Regions from separate parts of the Homo sapiens genome. Here region 1 is linked to region 2. The links come from fine-mapping of genetic effects on gene expression. A gene starts in region 2. The other region holds a variant in brackets. All regions are shown on one strand. Distances are from middle to middle.

Region 1 (8,346 bases), 62 kb after region 2:
CCTCTTTTCTGCTGTGATCCGTGTGGCATGTATTTAGGGGTTGCATGGATGAGAAGGTCCTCAGGTCAAGTACAGTTCTGTTATAGCGTACTAGTTGGGCATTAGTGACTTGAATCAATCAAGGAATGCAAATAATGAAGAATAACAGAAGCCTGTAGAATATTCATTATTGGATTTGTTATATTATTCGCACTTTAAACACATTGAATCGCTGCAAGTGAATTTTTTATTCACACAATTTTAAGAATGTTTTGCCAATGTAATCTTTTAGTTCTTAATTTTTTAGTTTTAAGCAACTTAGAGGAAGCATTTAGTAGAAAAATGTCTAATGTTTACTGGTCAAACTTTTTTTCTTTCTGAATAAAATTTTCCTTGTCCTTATATTTTTCTTATGCTATTTTATAGCACAGGAGTTTAGTAGACTGCTTAAATTAAGTTCAGCTTACTATCTTACTAGATGCTGAGTTTTTGAAACATCTTTCACCTCTTAGGGTTTGGGTAGATTATGTGTGCTGAGAAACCTTGTAGATCAATCTAATGTTGGAAGAGTCTAAGAAACTCTTCATTCCCCCCAACCATTGTATAGGACTTTTATGCTGTCAAATATAGGTATTTCTGCTTTATTAAAACTCCTTATGCCGAGGCCCATATATAACATTTATATTAATCATAAATTGATATTACAGCAAGATTCACCATGTTAATTGCAGACTCCCAATAGGTCTTTGAAAATAATTGGTTTACAAAATTTGATTTACATAGCATTTCATACAGTACAAAACAGGGAATGTCTCTGTATGATACCAACAGATGAACCTTAGAGTATGCCTTGGACATTTCTTTTTGTAGTTTCTCCAGAATTTGTTCTTTATTCCACTTCTCATGTCTACATTTTTTTTTTCTTCAAAATTTGCAGGCATCATGACCGGAAGATGTGTATAATAGGACTGAGTATCCTTTTGGAATTGCAAAATCGACCTCCTGCAGTAGATGCTGTGGTGGGACAGATTGTTCCCTCAATTCTTTTCCTTTTCCTTGGCCTAAAGCAGGTCTGTGCTACTAGACAACTGGTAAACCGGGAAGATCGTTCAAAAGCAGAGAAAGCTGATATGGAAGAAAATGGTAAAGTCTTCTAATTGAAATTAATGTTACAATTGATTTTGATTTGTGTATGCATTTTATATGAATACTAGTCTATATGGAGACATTAAACAGATTTACATTCTTCGGCCTGCTACACATATAACAAATATTTTGGGCTTGGTTGACTTGCTATTAATTGTATCATGCTATATAAATTTAGATTTATGCACCTTCTGACACCTAATATACTCAGCGGTTTTTTTTATGGAGCCTAATAGATGCTGTTACACATTAGGAAACACATTTATAACAATCAAATGGTCTTGACTGTAAGTTAGCAATCTAGTATCTAACTTTCTTGTTTGTGCTAACAGCCTCATCAAGGCAGTAGCCATGAGTTAAATGAATCATTACATTAAGAGCTGAAGTGTTAGTACCACAGATTAGTAGAGAGTGTCTTTTTTTTCTTTTTCTGGAATGGTTCTTAGGTGACTCATTAGCAAAAATTACATTTGAGAGACGTCCATATTTGTGATTTAAATATAAATTAAGGTAAAGTACATAAATGAAGTGGATATACTTGAGAATCAGAATAAGATTGTTAGAGTTGAATATTAGACCTTTGTTTTGTTTAATGATGAGATTGCGGAGCTACTTGCTAGAGACTAGGAAGTAGCATTCTCCTATTCCAGGTGGATTTTTTCCTCTCCTGGTTAAAAACAGATACTTTGTTAGCTGAGAAAAATCAGAACTCTTCCTGGTAAACATACAGCTCTATTTTTGATGCTAAATTCTGTGATTTTAGCATGGATAGATTTAAAACACTTTTAACTGGCATCATCCCAGTTTGTTCATATACCAGAGATTATAAACTACCCTTTTTCTCCCCTCCACAGCACAAAATACAGCTTCTAATTTGTTTTTCTGAAATCTGTGTAGGTCTTTTGAAGAAATGCTTCTTTATTAGAAGTGTTGCATGTGTGATTTTTGTTTTGTTTTGTTTTGTTTTTAGCTAACTGTGTGTCAACAGTTGTAGAATTCTTTTATTTTTTCCAGTATGTTATGATCTCTAATTTCTTGTTTTGGCAACTCTTTATTGGCTTATACTGTATGGCTTGAGGGAAAATTTTCTGGTAATATCCCACACTTTCTTGTACTTCCTACTAAAGTATGGAATGATTAACTAGTGGAGGTATTTCTCAGTCTTTTTGTATTAATAGTTATAATTTGCCATGCATTTTTTCGTGTATTTGGTCCAAACTCTGGTTAAGTGCCTTATTCCTAAAACTACCTAGTTCAATCTACCTGCTTCAATATGGTGTGTCTAATAGAACTAGTTTTAGGTTAATATTACCTGGTTTGGGTTTACTCCAGGATTTCTCTCTTATCTTGATTTTTGTTCTGCATTTACTGCCTTCCTGTTCCAGTATTTCAGTTACAATCTAACTGCTAGGAACAGATTGACACTGAAAATAGATACAGAATCCATGGTGATACATAATGTAGTTCAAGTTTTTAACTTTTCAAGCGACATGTAGCTATTTTTCTTTACATTTTTGCTATTTCTTTTTATTATAAATTAGCAAATTATATATTTATGGAGTACAAAGTGATGTTATGATTTGTGAATATAATGCGGAATGATTAAATCAAACTAATATATCCATCACCTTAAATACCCTTTTTAATGGTGGGAACATTTGAAATTTACAATCTTGCCAATTTTGAAATGTACATATACTATTAACTGTATTCACCATGCTGTACAATAGATACCAAAACAAAACAAAACAAAACAAAAACCTAATTCTTCCTGAGACTTTGTACCCTTTTACCAACATTCCCATATTCCCACCACCTCTAGCCTCTGGTAACCACCATTCTATTCTCTACTTCTATGAGTTTGATTGTTTTAGATTCTATGTATAAGTGAGAACAGGCAGTATGTGTCTTTCTGTGCCTGGCTTATTTCACTTATCATAATGTCCAAGTTCATCAGTGTTGTTGGAATTGACAGAATTACCTTTTTAAAAGCTGAATAGTGTTTCATTTTAAAGAATCCACATTTTCTTTATTCATCCGTTGTTGATGGACACTTAGGTTGATTCTGTAACTTGGCTATTGTGAATAATGCTGCGATGAACACAGGGCTGCTGACATCTGTTCTACGTATTGATTTAAAATATTTTAGATATATATCCTGAAGTGGGATGGCTGGATCTGTATTTTTACTGTTTCTACTAGCAGAAATGATCTCATTTGGGCATTTCTAAGCACTTTATAATCAACTCAGTTAATTAAGAGGACTGAATTCTCAATAGGAAGTCATTGTTTAAAACACATGCACTGACCGTACAGTCACTTTTTTTTTAAACAAAGGTAATTTTGAAATCTGCAATTGAATAATATTCTTGTATTAATGAACTTGCATAGCCTAACAGTAGTAATGTTCATCTGGATAACAGGTTTAGGGAACTTGTTTTCAGTGAGGAGGATAAGGACATTCTCAACTTAGCAAACTCTACAGTAAAGATAAGGTTTATTTATTTTATTTTTTATTTTTATTTTTTGACTCTCCTCTTTAGACCAGGGATAAGATTTATTTTTATTAAAATTTTGTGGAAGATTTTTTCCTTTCCAGAGTGTAGTTTTATAGTCTTTGGTTTTTGTCGTGAAGTTTTATATTTTGTCCTTATGTGTTTTGATTCCTTTTAAATAATTAATGGGTTCACAGAGGAGATTTCAAGTGATGAAGAGGAGACAAATGTAACTGCTCAAGCAATGCAGTCAAATAATGGAAGAGGTGAAGATGAGGAGGAGGAAGATGATGACTGGGATGAAGAAGTATTGGAAGAAACCGCGCTTGAGGGGTTCAGTACTCCACTTGACCTTGACAATAGTGTGGATGAATATCAGTTTTTTACACAAGCTCTGATAAGTATGTCTTTACTTCCCCACATCTTCTGATATTTTTTTTTCTAAACTCTTTCTTCATTTCTTCCTGTTTTGATATTTGCCCAAGATTGGTCTAGGTTCTTTTAAAAATTTTTTTGTTTATTCCTTATGATAGAAATCCCCAAACATACATACATGAAATGATAGAAATTAAAATAATGAAACACCTATCACCCAATCCTAGCAGCTTTCATCATTGAGAAGTAGCAGGGTGAGCCTGTATGTTATCCTTGCAAAAGTAATATGTGGAGTATCTGTGTATATTGTTCATCCTTTAGGCATAAATGGGCAAGCATTTTTATAGCAAAGAATGAAGTGTTTCAGGCATACATTGCTTAAAAATTGTGGCTAACAACCTACTAGTTATTCACAATCCCTAGAATGAAATTGCTGCCGTAAGAGGGTGACTTTTTACTTTGTAAGTAATTTG[C/G]CAATTTTATACAACAAAGAACAGTATAATTACAGTTACAGGACTCATAAATGATTCGGGGGGAGAAAATATTTGCCACATATGCATAATAGGCATAATGTACACAGTGTACAGAGGCCATCCTCAGATACATAAGACCAGTAACCTAGTAGAAAATGGAAATGGAAAATTTACAGAATAAAAACAAGCCAATGAGGATATTTAGAAAATTATTAATCAAATAAATTATTTTAAATCTCATTAATATAGATTATTTGTTTTATGGTTAGATAGTATTTCCATAGTTACATTGTAATTTAGTTCCACTGTGGGACATTTAAGATTGTTTCCAATGTTTTTACCATTATGAGGGTTATTAAAATGAACATCCTTACATGTAAATGTTTTTACTAATAAGGCAATATTAGCTTAATATATTGGCATTTTTTAGTGTTGCTACAAATAACATTAATGAAGAAAAAACTACCTAGATGTTCTTATTGAAATTCAGAGGAATTGGAGGCAGAGAACACAGGAAACTATATTCCAAAGCATGGGAAACGTAACAGCATAAACGTGGAGATGGAAATATGGAGGATGTGGCCTAGTGTAGTTCCAGACATGGGTGTGTCATAATCACCAAGGAGGCTTTTAGGTCTTGAGTAGGATCTCAGGAGATGTATTTTTAAAGATGCTTCTCAAGTGACAAGCAACTTTAAACCAGCATGTAGGGGCCACTGCTTAAAGACTGTGAAGGAACGCAGTTGGGCTGGGCTATAGTGGCCTTGAATTCTGGACTGAGGTGGTCCATCCCATTGCCCATTGGAATAGCGTTGAAAGTTGTGTTCTGAGGCGGTGACCTTTTAGATGTGGTAATTCACTTCAGGGGAGTTACCCGGTGATGGATGATGTGCAGAAAAAACTGGAAAGGACTAGATGTGGGAGCCAAGTGTTAGAGGTTCACTTTATTAATTTAGATGTATAGAGACCTGGAATGGGGAGGGTGACATTTGATGGAAAGCAGCATACAGATGAAAGACATTAAGAAAGAAGCAGAGCTTTGGGTGTGGAGAGGGCATGCTCAGGGATGTTAAGGATGCACAGTAGTGGACTGGGAGACTAATAGAACTGGTGAGATAAATGGAGAGATAGAAGGTTTGGGAGGAAATTGTTAAATTTGGTTTTAGTTGTGTTGAGTTTGAGATGAGCTATTCAAATGGAACAGTCCAGGAGGCTTAGGGGAAGGTTTTTCCTAGAGGTACAGATTTGAATCCTTGGGGTGGTAGCAATACTAAAGCTGCAGGTAGTATGAAAATTCCAGAGGAAAATGGTAACAAGTGAGTACTGGTGTTCTGGATTTTAGAGAACATCCATAGAAGACAGCAAAGGAGACAGAGAACTAGGCAGACTAGAGATTTGCAATGTCCTAACCTTCCTTTGATTTCCCACATAGCTGGGTACTAAGTGGGTACTCAGAAATAATCCTTTGTTGGCGTAAGTTTCATTACCTTGTGTGTGTTGTAGTACTGTACTCTTTGTCTCTTACTGTCTGGGATAATTTCTTTGTAATTTGATCATGTTACTACTTGTTCTGTAAATTAATAGTCGCTGTACCCTCCTGTCTTTTCCTCCCAAAATGCAACAGCTGTGCAGAGTCGAGATGCAGCCTGGTACCAGCTGCTGATGGCACCACTCAGCGAGGATCAGAGGACAGCACTGCAGGAGGTGTACACACTGGCAGAGCACCGACGGACGGTGGCAGGTCAGCCAGAGTAACCTCCAGAGTGGAGTGCATGTGTCAGAGTGCCAACAGACAGCCTTATTTGATGAGCCAGGTGGCACCTAAACACTGTTTTTGAAATTGTTAGAGACTTACCCTTTAAGATAATAAGGAATTGTCATTATTGTATGATTGTTTTAATCACTCATGATGTCTTAGCTTTGCAAAAACCTGCACATTAATATGTATTTCCTAGTGGTGTTCTCATTCACATTCTTATCCTATGTTGGAGGCAAAGGTACAAAGTAAGGGTTGGGATAAGTCTTGCCGAGGGAGACTTAATCAGTTGGATCACTCCCCTAAACATTTCAACCGTGGGCCAAAGGGACTTGACGAATTCTTGCAAGGAGCTTGTATTCCTGGAAATGGAATGCTCTCTATTTCTCATTGTTGGGCTTTATTTGACATTGTTTCTTGTTGTTGATTTTCAGTTTTTAAGCTGGAGGAATTACTCTGTGTTGATTATTGTAGTTACTTGTAGATTGTCATTGGAAAAGATTTTGTAGTTACAAAAAAATTTTAGTAGGAAACATGGCAAACTAGACATCTAGAGTTTAGAATGCTGGCTCTTCTGCATGGACTTAGATTTTCAGTTCTGTGCAGATTCTCAGTCAGCCTTCCTGATATGAGAAGTCTGGGCCCCCTTTCAGCAGTAGAGACAGTGAAGTAGAATCCACCTCTGAGACGTGTTTTCTTTTCACTCGTTTTTTGCAGATTTTCCGATGGTAGTGAACATACCACCTTATTGACATAGGTCTGTTATTCTTAGTTATTCTTTGGCAGGATAACTAATACTACCAGTCACATTCTTTCACAGTTCTAAGCATATAAAGAATCTGGCTCCTTTGAGTCATCTCCAACTTTGTCACCTTAAGCATTCTTTTTTTTTCTTCTCCCCTTTTCTTTTGAAAAATGCTAGAGGCAAAGAAGAAGATTGAACAACAGGGAGGCTTCACCTTTGAAAACAAAGGAGTCCTCTCCGCATTTAATTTTGGGACTGTGCCCAGCAACAACTGAAGGAAAGAACATCAGCTGACCAAATGTCATCGCTGCATTTTATTTCACAAGAGGAGTGTGAGGGTCAAGGGGATGAAATGAGGGGCTGCTTTTAGGGCCCTCCTGCTGTGCCAGTTACCATCTGGCATTAGGCAGCACTTTTATCTACTCTTTCCCCTTTGACCTTTGTCACCCTGAAATATATATTTTAAACAGCTACTGTAAGTATGAAATGAAAGAAAAACAATCATTGGACGGAAAAGGACAACCCATATGTTCCAAAGGCTGAATGCCCAAGGTTGTTTTAGAGGATTGGATAGACTTGCACGTCTCAGGTTTTTGCCATGCAGAATCAATGGATTTATGCGGATAACAGTGCCTTCTGTTGTACATGAATTATCAGAAAAAAATTTTTGGAGTGCATTGCAATTTTTTTTAAAGCATAAAACATATTTCTAGATACAACATAAACCTTGGTTATATGTCAACTATTCTGCATTTTACTCTGTGAATTTATTGTTAGGCAGTTACTGCAAGTCACTCTGGTTTCAAAATCTTCACGGCTCCCTCTGCTCACCCTGCTGCTGGGGGGCTTTTTTCAGGGGTTGTATTATAAAATATGCACTGGCTGTGGTTTTTCATAAGATGTTTTGTGGCTTTTTAAAGAAGTGTCTTACTCCCTCTTCTCTCATTTTTTTCTGCCTTGAAAAGGGGTGGTATTTCTTTTGGGGTCAACAAATACACATATCAGTTTCACTCCTAACCTTGTAAGTTCAGGACTCATTTTCTTGGCAGCAAGTGGCAGGGGCTCTTTAGTCACTGGAGTTAACAGTAAGTCTGAGTATATTCTGAATAATGTAATTATGCAATTAATTGATAATCATACCTAAAGCACATTGAACTTCTAAGAGACAGGTGCTACGTAAGCACACTGTCTTTCTGGATGGGGACTTGTATTTTAAATAACTTATCATTCCAGCTATGTTGGACTAGGGTCCAAAGCATTTTATAATATTTTTTTTTAATCTAGGAAAAAGACCCAAACAAATCTAACTTCTTGCTTTCTCACCTATTTGAATTTTCTCCTACCTAATTTGTTTGTGTCTTTATTATAGCTCAGTTT
Region 2 (8,346 bases):
CATACAAAGTTTTCATGGGAACATCAGCTCTTTTTAATTACGTACTTTGGGTAAAATTTTTATTTTGATATAATTGTAGATTCACATGAAGTTGTAAGAAATGATACAGATAGATCCTATGTACGATTTTTCCAGTTTCCTTCAACAGTAACATCTTGTAAAACTATAGTACAACATCACAACTGGGATATGGACATTGATACAGTCAAGAAACGAACATTTCCATCATCAGAATTCCTCATATTGCCCTTCTACAGTCACACCCACTTCCCCCTTGCCACCACCTCCACTTTAACCCTTAGCAACCATGGATCCTTCTATATTTTTTAAATTTTAAGAATGTTATATAAATGGCATTTGACAAGATGCAACCTTTGGGATTGGCTTCTTTCCCTCAGCGTAATTCTCAGAAGATTCATCAAGGTTGCTACATGTATCTTTTTTTTTGTTGCTCAGTAGTATCCCATGGTATAGATGTACCATGTTTATTTAACCATTCACCCACTGAAGGATATCTGGATTGTTTCCAGATTTGGGTTATGATGAATAAAGCTGCATATACACTCACAAGGTTTTTTTTATGAGCACAAGTCTTCATTTGTCTAGGACCAATGCTCTGGAGTGCAATTGCTGTGTCATATGGTAGTTGCATATTCAGTTTTTTAAAGAAACTGCCCAATTGTTTTCAGAAAGGCTGTATCACTGTACATGTTACCACCAACATATAAGTGATCCAGTTTCTGTACATCCTCACCAGCGTTTGGTGGTGTCACCGTTTTTGATCTCTCCTTTTATGTTATTGGAATAACTACCTTAAGTCTCTCCCTTCTCCAATCTATCATCTTCAGTGCTGAGTTCAGTTTTAGACATGTGCCTTAAGTGATTTGAGGGATAGATATTGGTAGAAATGTATAGGCATTTGGATATATTTAGTTTAAGGGAAGAGATCTTACAACTAGTTTTGTAAGCTATCTTTGTTTAGTTGATGGTTAAAGTTATGTAAGTGGATGAAATTACTGAAAAATGGGTGGATGAGAAAGAGAAGATGGCTGAGGACAGAGTCCTGAGAAGCGTCGAAGACTTGGGCGATTGAGTAATCAAAGGGTTAGGAATGTATTCTGTAAGAGAAAACAAGAAAAGAGATAATTTAAAAATAGTATGAAATATGATACCGGATATTAGAGGCTGGGTGTGGTGGCTCACACCTGTAATCCTAATTTGGGAGGCTGAGGCTGCCAGATTGCTTGTGCCTAGCAGTTTGAGACCAGCCTGAGCAATGTGGTAAAACCCTGTCTCTACTAAAAATAAAGCTGGGCGTGGTGGCATGTGCCTGTAGTCCCGGCTACTTGGGAGGCTGAAGTGGGAGAATTACCTGAGCCCAGGAGGTCGAGGCTGCAGTGAGCAGTGATCATGCCTCTGCACTACAACCTAGGCAATGGAAGTGAGACGCCCTCCCCCAATCTCTCAATCTCTCTCTCTCTCTATACATACACACACACACACACACACACACACACACACACACGCGCGCGCGCGCGCGCGCGAGAGAGAGAAAATTTAAGTTGAGAACTAAAAATGTCTCTTGCAGTTGGTATACCCCCTAAAGAGGTCGGTGTTCATCTTTGCTTGGCAGTTTTAGTGGGAAATGAGGGGGAGAAGCCTGGGGATAGGTGGTTGAAGCATGAATGGGAAGTAAGCTGACACAGTGAATGAAGACCATTCTTTGGAATGAAGTGGAAAAGAATGAGCAATAATTAGCATTACTGAAGATTATTTTTTTGCTGGGGGAAATGTTTTTAGGCTGAGGTTGAATCAGTGGAGGAAAAGAGGCTGAAAAAGTACGAAAAAAACTTACACATTGTCAACAATGAGCACATTATAATGACTAAAATTTATTTTAATGAAAAAATGTATTTAAGAGAGGAGAGATTTATGGAACAGGGTCCTGGAGGAGATGGGAGAGAATGGGGTTCAGACTGCAGAGGAGATGAAGAGGGATAAGCGGAGATGAATTTGTTGTTGAGTTGAGCCTGAGGGTTTTGCTCATCTTTGCAGGGTTTGGTGAGAAGGCGTAGGGAGCTTGAGAAGAGTCCTGAGAGTTGAAACGCCACTGAGGGAATGGAAGATGTTGCTGATTAAAGGCAAGGAATAGGAATAGGATGGTTGCATCTGATTAAAGAATACATCTGATATCAGTTTGCACAGTGGGTCAAGGCTAGAGTTAAGAAGCTGAATTGGGGGTTTAATAGCAGAGAATGATGTGTAGTGAGTAATGGATAGACTAAGAACTGAAGTAGTGATTGAATTGGAAAACAAGCTTAGAATTTTTGAGGAAGAGAGAAATGGAAGAATTAGTTCTAATTATAAAAGAGGATATTGGAGTTAAGATTTTCAGAGATAAAAAATTTTTTAGACATTCATGATGTCCAAGAGAGTGGTTTAGTGAAATAGTGTTCATAAGACTCTGGAGTGCTAAGTTTATATTTTATTTTGAAATTGATGAGAAATCAAGGAAGAGACATAGTAATATTAACTTTTCAGAAACTTTCTTCTGATGATAGTGTGAATAATGGATTAAAGAGGGGCAATACTGGAAGCAATTAGACATGTTAAATTCACTGTGAAGCACTTTTGCATCCAACTGAGGGGGAAGCTTTCAAGCCACCAAGTTTTCAGCCACATGTTTTCTACTCTCTCAATTGAACTCAGTTAATTGACCCAATCTATCTTAATTATCTGCTCCTGAAAAGATCACAGCCCCTCAGCTGTGTTTTGCCCACATCATCATCTTTATTAAATGTAATTAGAACCCTCTCTTCTGGGTTAACCTCAGGAAGAACCAGCTCCTTGATATTTTCATGCCATTGAAATTGTGGCGCCAGATATGGCCACAGTGGATAGAAACAGTATAACTTTTCTGCTTACCTTTCACTACATTTTTGAGAAGGTCTGAAAATTTTTCATAAAACTCTCAGGGATGTAGTTTTCAGTTTCTGTGACCTTTGTCTTTCTGAAATGGGAGAGGTTCCCTTGTCCCCCTCACAGGGCGTGCATTGGGGGTGTGGCTCGCTTCTTCAGTGCCCCGCTGCTCAGACCTCTAGAGAAGCATACAGACCGGCAGGCTGTGGGGCTCCGACCCCTTGACAGAGTCTGGGGGTGAATGTTTACAGCTCCTGAAGCCCCAGTGGGTGTGTGTTACAGGATGCTCTTTCAGTTTGCCTTTAGGGGGCTTGTGTTAACCAGCTCAATTAGACCCTCTACCTTGTCGCACAGACAGCGAGCTTTCTGTATCCTGGGTTCTTGCCTTGGTGTACCAGAAGAATTGGATCACACGTGGGCTTGGAGAATGAGTGCAAAGTTTTATTGAGTGGAAGTAGCCCTCAGCAGATGAGGGACCCAGAAGGGAAATGGTTTTCCTCTGGAGTTAGGCCGCTTGGCGGCCCGGGCTCTTTTCCGACTGCCCAGGCCAACCTCCGCATCGTTCTGCCCGTGAATGGCCTGCGGATGTGCCAGCGAGCTCCTCTTCTTCCACCCTTATGCTCCTCTGGACGTCTGGCTGCCTGTGTACCTGCCTGCTAGGGTCTGGGGTTTTCATAGGCACAGTATGGGGGAGTGGCAGGCCAGGGTGGTCTTGGGAAATGCAACATTTGGGCTGGAAGGCAGGAGTGTCAGTCCTCACCTAGGTCGGTGGGCGTGGAGCCCTAGCAAGGGACCACACACTCCTCTACCCAGCACTTCACTTCGCCCATCCCTATCATTTAAAGGGACCACGCTCTTCCCTTCCCAGCACTCCCCTATCATTTCTACACTGTAAATTTTTTTTGTTTATATTTGTCTCATCTATCAGGTTGTGAATTCCTTCACATTAACTTGCATGGAATTCATCTTGTTATAATGTGGTACCTAAAAATCCTAGTACTCTGGTTCAAAAATATATGTTTAACAAATGTTCAGTGAAAGCGAATGAATGAATGAACGATGACTCCCACACACGGAGGAACCCTGTCCTCCTGTAAGGTACATGATTTGAAGGTCCCAACAAGTCTATCTTGGAACAGGCCCAGTTGCGATGCCCATACAGTTCTCGGACTAACAAAAAGTGTCACACCATCCAGATATGCTTAATTTGGAAGCAGCTGTAAGCAGACTCCCGGCCAGCTCAAGTTTCCTCACCTGGGAAGAGGCGGGAGGCTGTTTACCGTACGGAAGCATAGCGGCCGCCTGCCTGAGTTCGGGAGCGCGGGTTCCTTTCCGGGAAAGAAGCCTAGGCCGTTTTCCGTACAGCAGCATGGCGGCCGCCGACGGGAGGCGGTCATAGCATCACGCCCGGGGGAAGAGGCCGCCGTAAAGGAAGCTCTGCTTCCTCTTCTTCCTTCTCCCGCCTCCCACCGGCTGTCGTAAAACGGTGAATGGAGAGCGAGTTGTGGGGGGGAAAAAGGGAGGACAGGGGGCGCGGAGTCAGAGTGGCGCAGCAAGTGGCCGCAGGTGGCGACGGTGGCGGGGGGTGGGGTGTGAGGTAATCCAGGGGTCGCGGAAGAGGAGGCTGAGAGGGTCAAAAGAAAACTAAAGCTGCAGTCCGGCCTACTGTTCCGGGGGCCGCGGAGCCCCCACCCGGGGAGATGGACCTCAACCGGATCATCCAGGCGCTGAAGGGCACCATCGACCCGAAGTTGCGGATTGCAGCCGAGAACGAGCTCAACCAGGTGAGGAGAGGGTCTTCGGCGACCCTCTTCCGCCGAAGGGGCGCCCCTGCCGGCTGGCCGGGCTCCCTCTCCCCGGCGCCCCTCGTCCTCACCCCCACCGGGCTGGGGCTGACGCCTCACGGCTGGTCCCGCTCTCCGACCCCGCTGCCCCCCGGTCCAGTGGAGCAGGGCTCCCAGGATCTTTGCCGAACAGCTCGCGCACCTGTTGGCCACCTTTGCACCTTTTCGTGTCGTCTCCCTTCTCCAGGGCAGTTTGTTCTGCCTACTTGGTCCGCAAGAAGCAGTTTTTGCAACCTGTGCTAGTGTTTTCAGGGTGTGATTTATTTTCCTTAAGTGCGCGGACTTGGGGAGCAGGTGGGAATTTTACTTACAGTTCAAATCTGAGTTCAGCTTTTTTCCAAACCCAGCCCTTTTTAGGTGTTGCTGTGGAGCACGCTGCCCACCGCCTCCTCCTGTCGGGTTGGCAGGACTGTTTTGACACCGATTGGCCGAGTTTTGCGGAGCGCTGGGCAGTGCTGTTGGGAGAGTGCTCTGGGAAGAATAGGCAGTTTTCATGGTGATACTGCTTTATCTAAGACACATCAAAGTAAGATGTGTTGGAGAAATTTCTTATGAATGCTAAAATGTGTAAGACTTCTTTCTTTTCTCCGTCTCCTGTTCTTCCTAATTAGCCTTGACGTCTTTCCAGCGTTACCCCCACACTTCAAAATTTTAATGATCCCAAACTCCAGCTTATTTCTTCTTCCCTACCGGTACTTAAGAATCACAGACCTCTTACTAAAAAGTAGGGATTAAGAGCTACCACTGGGATGGAGCAACAGCTGTTTTAGGTTGTGATGACTTGTAAAATGTAAATATTCCAAAATCAGCTGTTCTCAAAGCGTTGCCCAGGACCTGGAGCTTCAGCATCACCTGAGAACTTACAAATTATGCAAATTACGGGGCTTCAGTCCAGACTTAACGAATCAGAAACTGTGGGGGTGGGACCAGTTGTATTTTAACTAGCTCCCCCAGGTGATTCTGTGCCTCCCGAAGTGTGACTGAAGTGTGACTGTCCTAAGTAAATGTTTCTGTTGGAATTGACTTTAAAAAGCTGCGTGTTGGGAATCTTTGAAAGGGATTATTTTAATAGGAAACCTAGGTGGAGTTTGGAGTAGGTATAAATGCAGGATTCCCCAGAGATAAAAGGGAGAGTGAAGACACTGCCAATGGAGAGGAGGTTGGGTTGAACTAATGCCCAAAGATAATGCACTGGTGCCTGAAAAAGAAATGGACTGTCACTTAGAATAGGGGGAAGTTAAAGTCAGTACCTGTCCCAGGCTTTGCAGAGTAAAAGTACTGTATGTTGGCTGGCTGGAAGAATAGTAATCCAGGGGTTAGTTAGGAAGAACAAAGCAGGAGCTGAATTTGCAGTCTACTAATATGAACAGGGGAGTTGGCCTGTTTATGACCCCCTTCTCACAATGAGGCCAGGTGTTCCTTTGATATCAGGTTACACTTCCCTGCCCTTCACCTAACCTTCATTTCTTTCTGATTCATCAGTATATAAGTACAGTTGATGTTATAGAAGTGGAAAAAGTATATGAGAAAGCCTGCAGAACTAGGAGACATTTAAGACCCAATCCTATTTTTTTTCCCATGGTATTTCAGACAAAAGCAGGCACGTTCAGGGTGGTATGGCCGTAGACTCTTGATGGTAGTTCAATCCAAATCCATTCCATCATCACTCTGCCCTGCCCCATAGTGTCCCACCTCATCACAGACCGTGGTTTCCCCAGCAATTTCTAAAGGTAGCTTATTGCTATACCACTCATTTAGCATTTATAATTTATATAAAGCATAGTGAAATGCTTTAAGGTTTTTTGAATTGGCTGTAAATAGAACAAAATATAATGTCACCTAACAGTGTAGTAAAACATGCTTATGATGATGGGTTTTGCCTGCTTGTCCTTTGCCACCACTGTAACATCCGACTTTGTTGGATAAATGAGTGGGTAAATCACCATAAGTGGTTATGGTCCACCTCTTCGACTTTAGTCTAGGTCTCCCCTCAGCAAGTATGTTCTGCATAGGGAATGGGAGCAGCTTCTGCGGTATACTGATGGATCTGTCAATTGCCGTTTAGAAAAATAAGCAGCTTCTGCACCACAGCCTATATTCCAATGGATAAATTCTCATTTGGAGCTATATATTTTTTTCAGGCCAGCATTTTTCTGTTACTAGTGAGTAGTTTTCTGACTGCTATTTGTGATATTGTTTCTGTGGGAAAATGTATTTGTAGTTTTATCTCAGGATATTGAGCGAACCCTATACATCTTCCTCATTTTCTATAGACCAGAAGTCCCATTAGAGGCAGCATAGAGGAATAGGAATGGGTAGGTACCTTGCTTAAGTAATTCATCCAGAAAGGTGTCCTCTTTTAATAAATTATCCTTCACATGGCCTCGGTAGGGAAATAAGTTTTTACTTTGATTGCCAAGCTTTTGAATCTCTGCTTTCCATGCATGTGTACATGCAATTTTCATTACCCTTTATTAAGATAATTTGTTTATGTAAATAGCACAGAAATATTTATTAAGTTACTATGTTGCAGATATTGGTATAAGAGTTTGTTTCCATGGAGCTGGGGATACAGGCAAGTAACTAATATAATTTCAGGTCATAAGTGCTGTGGAGAGTAAAGCCCGAGCAAGAGTGTTGGGATGTATAGCCATTCTCTGAAGAATGGCATTGAGTAGAGAGTTGGATGTTGTGAAGGAATGGGCCAGGCAAAGAGCAGAGAGAGGAACAACAGTTCAGAAAAGGCCCTCAACTTGGCGTGCTGGAGGACTGAGAGGGAATATCGGTTCAGAAAAGGCCCTCAACTTGGCATGCTGGAGGACTAGAAAGGTTAATGCAGCGGAGCAGTGAGTCAGAGGATGGGAGGAGACATCAGTTTTTTGCTTTATGAGTTCTCATAAATGCAGAATTTAGTTAAGCAAACTGCGTATTTGCAGAAAACTTCACAGATACAAAATATCCTCAGGAAATCATTGAGAAATTAGTCTTATTTATTTTTTAGAAACTCGAAGCCTGAAGAGGCACAAAGAAATTGAGTAACTATTTCTGAGTAAAGTAGTATGAAAATATATCTGACTATATCTCTGAATGTTTTAGCTGGCCAAGTTAATATAGAATGAATCAATGCTGAAAGAAGACAAGGTTTCTGAAATTTTTTAAAATGGCAAACAGTTGCAAAAAGAGGAGTTTCAAAATCTGTACAATGGCAACAGTGTTGACATAAAAGTCTCTGCAATAGGTATATTACTTTCAAATAAGTAGCATTTATTTAAGTGTAAAGGTTATTTTGTATGTGTGGAATAAGATTTTTAAACAAATAACGGAAGTCAGTTTTTTTATGATTAGAATAAACTATATAGATGTTTTAATCTTTGATTCATGACAAGATCTTTCAGTATTTACAAAGATAAACATGAGTTATAATACATATGTAGAAGGTGAAGGCTGGGTGAATCTGTGTTAATTTTGCCTCCTATCAACGGTTGTTAGAACAAATCTGTTTTCTTAAAAACTGCTTTGAAATTCTGATGGTTTCAATTATGGATAAAAAAGAATTTACATGCCACAGATTTGTGATCTGAAG

Evidence for each region. PIP is the estimated chance that this variant, and not a neighbour inherited with it, causes the effect.
Region 1: its variant is the best candidate, but not a certain one, in a credible set for the expression of IPO8 in transverse colon (GTEx, PIP 0.55).

Annotation. Positions count from the first base shown.
Region 1 is chr12:30,629,758-30,638,103 of GRCh38, reverse strand. IPO8 (importin 8) reads left to right here. Exons shown (of 25, transcript NM_006390.4): 22 at 917-1,122; 23 at 3,818-4,021; 24 at 6,093-6,209; 25 at 7,147-8,346. The coding sequence ends at 7,244. Among named protein-coding and RNA genes, the nearest start is that of IPO8, 62 kb to the left of the region's middle. The variant C/G (reference allele first, on the strand shown) is at 4,469.
Region 2 is chr12:30,691,921-30,700,266 of GRCh38, reverse strand. IPO8 (importin 8) reads left to right here and starts at 4,398. Exons shown (of 25, transcript NM_006390.4): 1 at 4,398-4,703. The coding sequence starts at 4,620. RefSeq lists an enhancer at 4,009-4,508 and a silencer at 4,599-4,648.